2 linked regions of the Homo sapiens genome follow. The protein of the gene in region 1 purifies or fractionates together with the protein of each later gene. This does not show direct contact. Each region holds a gene or a part of one and is shown on either strand. Other genes may lie near its edges. The genes, in order: TAF5L and MPPED1.

Region 1 (3,815 bases):
AATTATACATTTGGTGATTTACTTTTGTGTCTGTTTTCCTCATTAGACTATATGCTCCATGAGGGCGGGGACCATATCAATATATCTTAGGACAATATCTATCCTGGCATGTAGTCAGCACTTAACATAAATACAGGCTGAACGAATGAAGGAGACAGGCTCAAAGAAGCCAGATAATTTGCTTCTTTTTCTTTTTTTTGAGACGGTATTGTTCTGTTGCCCAGGCAGGAGTGCAGTGGCATGATCACGGCTCACTGCAGCCTTGACCTTCTGAGATCAAGTGATCCTCCCATCTCGGCCTCCTGAGTAGCTGGGACCACAAGCATGTGCCACAACACCTGGCTAATTTTTTTAAATTTTTTTGTAGAGACAGGGTCTCACTGTGTTGCCCAGGCTGGTTTCAAACTCCAGGCCTCAAGCAGTCCTCCCATCTTGGCCTCCCAAAGTGCTGAGATTGTAGGCACAAGCCACCACACCCAGCCAAGACATTTGTTTCTAAACCAGCTTCCCCACCACTAGTATGGTGAAAATAAATCTGTCATGGAGAGATTAATATCATATTTTTTTAACTGAGTAAAATAACTTTCTAAAAACTGAGTTAAATTTTTCTGCAAGTTGCTTAAAGCCTCAGAAACCAATGCCAATGATAAAAAATATCTCTAAGTTCTTACCTCTCAATGAAAGAAACCCTTATTATAAATTCGGTTTTTCTTTTTTTATCCTTAGTGGAAATTGATCACTGCACTGAAATATTTAAGATTTATATGATATGCAGAATTAATGGAACTTCCTTTTTTTCAAACATAATAGAGTCATTTTACTAAAGCCTTAATTTTCATGATTTTTCGTTTTTGTAACTATTAAACAGACTATTCTCTACTTATGAATTCTGTCACCCAACAACCATGAAACTGATAAGATAACCCCACTAGAGGGTTTTATTTTGTAACCCTTATTTCCTGTAATATTTTGACCATTTTCTCCAACTGTAGACTATAGTAAATATAGATTCTTTGCTTTAAAATACCATTATGGGGGCCAGGTAAAACTAGGATAATTCTATGCGTGTGTAAGGCCAGGTGTATTATTTTGGTTTATATATTGATTACTGTATACTCGTCGTTTACCATTAAAAATTATTACCACAAGGATTGTTTGGCCAGAACTTTACATTTCAAAAGATTATAGTCTATCAACCATTTCCTTTAAGTTCTTACTTTATTTCTGAACTGAGAAAGTTGTCTGTTATTTTGTCTGTAATTTGATTCTTTAATCCTTTGGTTTAAAGGATCATTATTTTAAAGGGGTTAATATATATTGATCACTTTGGACTGCTGCTCCTGGAATATTTTTCTCTACCCTCAGGTCTCTGAAGAGCAGTTAACCAAATCAAATGAATAGTTATTTCCTGATCACCAAGATAAAGTGTAAGATATACTCATTAATCTATTTTAGAAGCAGTCCTAGCATAAAAACACTATAGGTAAAAGTTTTTACATAAAATTTGAATATCACAGAAGCACTTTCACAGACCAGCATGAGATCAATTGCTGAATCATATAGGAATTGCATTCAGAATGAAAGGAGAAAGTGATTTGGTTGGCGGTAGTCAGAGAAGGCTTTACTGAGCAGGAGGTAGGCTTTAAGTCAGCACTTGAAGGATGGATTGAGTTTCAGTAGACTGGAAGAGGAGGAGGAAGAGGAGTAATTTGGGTAAGAAATAACATGAGCAAAAAGGCAGGCTTGACGACTGTACAGGAACAACTAAGGCTTTGTTGTGAATGGGGGTTTCAGGCTGGAGATCAATGAATATTAGTCTGAAAGCAGTTTGTAAAATTATTTGTAAGAGGAATGGCAGGGAGACTGACTGTGAATTAAAGTGCTTGGCAATCTTGAGAAATGAGGTGAGAAAGGACCAGAATTTGACAGCATTGTGGAACTGGAAGGCAGGAGCTTTATTTCATAGTTAAATTACCAAGGTGGAATCTCCAAGGCTCAGGAGTAAAGGAGGAAGAAGAGGTGACGATGGCTCAGGCTTTAAGACTGGAGTGGAGATGAAGATTTATTGAAAATAAATAAGTCAGAAGGGTTTATGTTTGTTAAATTGTCATGACAGTGGCATCCTACTGCATAGCTTGCAGTGGGAAATTTGAGGCTAGGATTTAGGAGAAAGATAAAGACTTGTAATAAAGAACATGTAGCATCAGCTACATGGAGATGCAAATTAAAGTCTTAAGAAGTGATAAAATCTCAAAGGAAGATACTAGGGAAAGATATAAGAGTATCTATGTCTATATCCACCTGAATGTATTTTTCCTCCACAGGTTGTCTGTAGATGAGAGATTCTGTGAGCTCACCTATTGCCGTAGGTCCTATTCTTCAGGAGGTGTAGTGGGAAGAACACAGCCTTTGGAGTCAAGCAACCTCTGGATTTGAACCAGGGCCAGCTGTGACTCTTAAACATGATCATGGATGCAAAGTACCTGGCTCCTAAGAGGCACACACCCAGTGTTAATTCTTTAAAGTGAAATGAGCATTTGAGGATTGACAGGAGGAAGAGGAACCAAAAAGGGAGTGACGACAGGACCAAGTAGTGTGGGCTTTCAGAATAAAGGACAGAGGAGTGCTAGTCAATAGAGCCAAACCTTGAAGAAAGGTAGAGGAGAATGAGGACCGACAGGATTAGTTTTGTTTAATTTAGTATCCTTTTTACTACTAATTTCCATGAACTCATGAAAAACTCCATTGTTCTCTCATTTACCGCCAGTAGAGTTGGGCACCAGGTAGGCATTCATTACATTTCAGTGGGTAGATAGAAGGAAGAAAAAGTGTACTTTCAGAGGATATGTTTGTTACTTTTGCAGTTAGAAAAAAATATATTTTAAGTGAGTACACTTTCAGTAAAATACAGAGTATGTTAGATTGCAAGGGAATAATTTAAAATGGGAGTTAGAATTCTGAATCTCACCTTCTTCCAAATTGATCAGTTTTTTTGTTTTATACCCAGCATACTGTTCTCTTCAGACAAGAGAGAGCAATTAAGCAATTTTGAACCTATGAGCTGAAGCAACAGTGAATTTCAGTAAGTTTTAAAGTAGTACATCACTATTTCTTGATAGCTAGGTTTTTTTCTAAACTTACTCAATTGAAATGCCTCTCATTTTAGAAAAGGAGCCTGAAATTTTGTTTCTAAGGAATTGAAAACAATCCTTCATCCCAATAAAAAACAAAGGGAAAAGAAAAACCAAAATCTAGTCACAGTTCTCGAAAGAAACAGCCAAGAGCCAACAGGATGGATATGTAGAGGTTTACTTTAAGGAATTGTTCCATGCAATTGTGGAGGCTTGGCACATTCAAAATCAGGGCGGGCCAGCAGGCTGGAGACCCAGGAAAGAGTTAGTGTTGCAGTTCAAATCCAAAGGCTCTCTGCTGGCAGAATTCCTTCTACTAGGGGAAGATAAGTCTTTTTCTATTAAAGCCTAAACTGATTGATTGATTGATTGGATGAGGCCCACACTTTATGGAAGGTAATCTGCTTTACTCAAAGTCTACTGACTTAAATGTGTTAATCTCATCTAAAAAAAAAAATACCTTCACAGAAACATTTAAAATAATGTTTGACTGAATATCTGTGTGCCGTGGGCCCCCCCACAGTTTGACATGTAAAAGTAACCTCACAAGTCCACTCCTTATTAACTTGGCACCTGTATGCATCTCCTTATTCCATACTTAATCTCCAAATAAAGAGAATAACAAGTTCATACTTCCACCTAACCTAATAAAATTATCCTGTGTACAACCAAAAAACACACTAA
Region 2 (3,815 bases), on another chromosome or scaffold:
AGCCGTCAGCTTGTCCAGAAGCCACAGCACGGCTGAGAGAGGGGCGGGCAGGAGGAAGCTGCATGAACTCCTGGTCAAAGGTCAGCTCGTGGTTGCCCGCGATCACGATCTTGTACTCATAGGGCAGGCTGCCTGCAGGGGTGGACACAGACAGACACACAGCACACAGCTGTCAGCTTGTCCAGAAGCCACAGCATGGCTGAGAGAGGGGCGGGCAGGAGGAAGCTGCTGGAATCGCTGACAGGGGTACCTGCTGCCAGGCCCCCAACAGGTGTCTTCATCAGATCAAAGGAGGCAGCAGCCTGATCACTGTCCCCACAGTCCTGCCTGTCCAGGCCTCCACTGGCCATCGGCCCCCTGAGATCATCGGGAAGAGGCTGGACAGGTTCCTCCCAGGCTGCTGAGCTGCAGAGTGCCTGGCCTCATCCTGGGACTTCTCTGCCTCAGTTTCTTCTGTCTGGACTAGTTTTCTACTGGAAGAAGACCCCCACGCTGCATCCCCAGCCCTAGCTGTCACTGGCCTCACGGTCCCAGGCCCCCACCCCCTGGGTATCTTGGACTCTTTATCCTCCACTTTCCAAAAGGAATTGCAAGGTCTTTGCAGAGCCCAGTTCAAATGTTTGGAGACCCCACACTCAGGAAACATTATAGTACCCACCCCTACTGCCATGGAAATTCAAAGCCAAAACAAAATCTAGATGGAATCAAAACAAAAATGTCTATGTATACAGCCACTGAATTACAATAGTGTCATTCCAGCTTTGCTGTGTGCGAACTTTTGGGTAGTTCTTCCAAGGTACACATCTTTCTCTCTCTGGGGTCCAGTTTTCTGGATGCCCTAGGCAGGAGTGTGCACTGTCACCCAAGAGAGACTGGCTGGGGGCTGGTTTCTCGGCAGCTGCCCGGCAGGCCTCACCCACCAGGCTGGCTCTATGCAGGCGCAAGACCACCACAGCTGTTCGGTCTCAGTAAACGCCACTCGCCCCTGCCCCCTACTCCATCTGAGAGCCAGCCTGACCCCAGGCTTGGGCCCCTGACTCCCCACTCCCCACCAGCCTCAGCTGCTGGGCACTCATGGGCCTGGAGAGTCAAGATGGTACCTGTAAGCCCTGATTTGGATAAAAAATGAAATGTTGAAAGTGCACTTGGAGACCCAAGCCTTTCTCCTGGCCCCTCCTGGGCCGAGAGTGACCTGGAGGGTCAGGCAAGTAGCAAAGACGCCAGCACAGCACAGGGGCCTCGGGGTGGATGGGGACCCAGACAGGAAAATGGTGACATTCCATAACCAGTTCACAAAGCAGTAACTGTGGCTAACAAAGACCGACACCTCGCGAGGCATCCCCTCTATCCCTGGAAGACCATGACCTTCATCTGCTAAAGCACACACAGGGCAAGGTGCCAGAACACTTGTCTGGCCATCAGGCTCCAATGAGCCCCTGACACCCCCTTCACTCCTCACCCTCCCGGGGCAATGCCCAGCAGCACGGGCACCGTGGTCTGTCCCCTGGGACAACACAGCAGCCCAGGAACAGCAGAGCCTTTTCCACCATGACCAAAAACTCTACCTCTTCCGCTGTGTGAGCATTCCATGGGGAACCAAATTCCAGAAATGCCTCTGCTCCAAATACTAAGGATTGTTTTTCTTATTGGAAACGGATGCTTGCAATATGGGCTGAGACTCGGAAGATGTGCCATCACACTCAGCTCTCAGGAAGCACTCTAGGAAGAGCTCGCCTCCCCAGCCCTTACGTGAGCTCCAGGGAAGGGTAGAGTGAGGTTTACAGCAGTACATGTCCTATAACTACAGCCATTATTATATCCTAATAGCAAGGAAATAGAAGGGTCCAGTGCCCCGTTATAAGCTTCTTCTCTACCCCCAGCTAGATGAGACCTGTGCCGTCTGTCTAACCACGTGCCCTATGGCCACGGCAAATGGCCAGGTCCCAGCCTGGCCAGGGAGGGTGGGCCAGGGCGGTAAGAAAGGGAACCCCAAGGCGAGACAGAAGTTTTCTTCAGAACAGGCAGAAAATCCCAATCTACTCATAGCTGACTCACCAACCACCTCAGACTGCTTCACAGGTTTGAGAAAGAAAGCACTGCTCTTTCTTCTTCGGGATTTATCAACTCTGGGGCGGGGGACCACTGGTACATGGGGGCCACTGGTACTTAGCAGGCCACAGAATCTCAGCTCCAGCAGCCTGGATCCCAGACCCACTCTGCCACCAACCCGCTGTACGACTTAGCTTCCCTGTGCCTCAGTTTCCTTACCTGTAAAATGAGAAAAGTAACAGCGACCTTGCAGGACTGTTCTGATATTATAGAAGATAATCAATGGAAATGTACAAAATTTTGATGTTCAAAAAAACCAAAGAGCTTCCCTGGGCCAGAGTTTGCAAACTAGAAGCAGGCAGGCCAGACCCATCCACAGACATATTTTGTTTGGCACAACTTTTTTTTAAAACTTGAATTTGTTGCCAACATCAAAAATTTGAGAGATTCCTAATAACATTTCATTACTTCTGTTTTCTAAAAATAAAGAAATAAATACAATTTAACTGGTCCAGTCAGGAAGTGCTGAGTGTCTGTGTCCCCTTGGACAGGATGAATGCGTCCAGCTGGCCCCAATCCCCACCTGTCCCTACCGTCTCACACCCAGTCCACTTCATTCATTTGAAGGTACCGCCCACTCTTAACAGGCATTTGGGTTTCTGTCCCTGGGGACATGAAGGGAACAGCCTGGCCCTGGCCCGAGGTTCTTCCAGTCAGGCTGCTGGGATGAGATTCTACAAGCCCCTTCCACCTCCCTGACCCTCCTCTTGTACATCAGAGCCCACCCTGATGGACGCTGGGAACTCTGCTTGCTGTGCTCATGGGAGAGCTCCAAGAACATGGATGCAGGCGTGTTTGCTTCCCCCAGCTCTGTCCCTAGCAGGCCCCAGCAGGAGTCTGGCGAATGAAGCCTCCCACAGCCCCACAGTGCGACCAGGCATGGTACAGAGAAGCCCTCTCCAGTGAGGCTCAGGCTGCGGAGAGGAGGGAAGAGGGCTGCGTGGGCCTGAGCAGCTGGTAGTGGGTCCGGGAGGACACAGCAGGAAAGATGGCCACTTCTGGACCGCTGGTGGAGAGCTGAGATCTCATTTCCCTAGAGCACCCCCAAGGTACTTGGTTTTATTATCTCCTCTTTGCAGCTGAGCAGAATGAGGCTCAAAGGCTGGGAAACCCACCCAGGCCCCACGGCTGTGGAGGGGGACGCTGGTCCAGCTGACCCCACCCCTCTAGACGGGCACCTCAGACTCCTCCAAGGCCAGCAGACCCCTCATCGAGCCCCTCCCCAAACACACTGCAGCAGGGAGGCAGCCAGAGCCCCCAGCTCGGGTTGGGGGTGGCCACCATCGCTGCCTTCGGGCTCTGATTCACCACATTTCCACTTCACATCACCCATCCATCCTGCAGCCCAAGCTGGGGGTGCAGAGCCAGTGCTCATGTATTTATGTCATGTCTTTGACTGGGGGTGTTACTGAAGCAAATTAGCAAATTACTCCAACTGTACAGTTTCATTTATTTCTGCAGCTCCCGACTACTGGGGATTGGGCGGAGCGCAGAAGCTGTCAGCTCTCCCCTCTTCTTCTCACCTCAGCAGCTGATGACTGAGGCTTTTTCCCTCCCAGAAAAGGGTGGATGGGGCACAAGGCCCAGCTCCCATACATAATGCAAGGGAGCAGGGCAGGAGCCACCACCTGCTGGGGTGACACCCTCAAACACTGTCTGCTCCATGGCTTGGAGGCAAAGGGACATCCACTTATGAACACAGAAAC

Evidence for each region.
Region 2: the proteins of TAF5L (region 1) and MPPED1 purify together in Homo sapiens (co-immunoprecipitation; one large-scale study listed by IntAct). This does not show direct contact.

The regions. Positions count from the first base shown.
Region 1 is NC_000001.11:229,605,386-229,609,200, reverse strand, and holds part of TAF5L (TAF5-like RNA polymerase II p300/CBP-associated factor-associated factor 65 kDa subunit 5L), read left to right. Parts: intron 1-1,365; exon of another isoform or gene 1,366-1,393; coding exon of another isoform or gene 1,394-1,427; intron 1,428-2,324; exon of another isoform or gene 2,325-2,783; intron 2,784-3,007; exon of another isoform or gene 3,008-3,082; intron 3,083-3,815. UniProt on the Homo sapiens protein: Functions as a component of the PCAF complex. The PCAF complex is capable of efficiently acetylating histones in a nucleosomal context. The PCAF complex could be considered as the human version of the yeast SAGA complex.
Region 2 is NC_000022.11:43,470,886-43,474,700, reverse strand, and holds part of MPPED1 (metallophosphoesterase domain-containing protein 1 precursor), read right to left. Parts: intron 1-3,815. UniProt on the Homo sapiens protein: May have metallophosphoesterase activity (in vitro).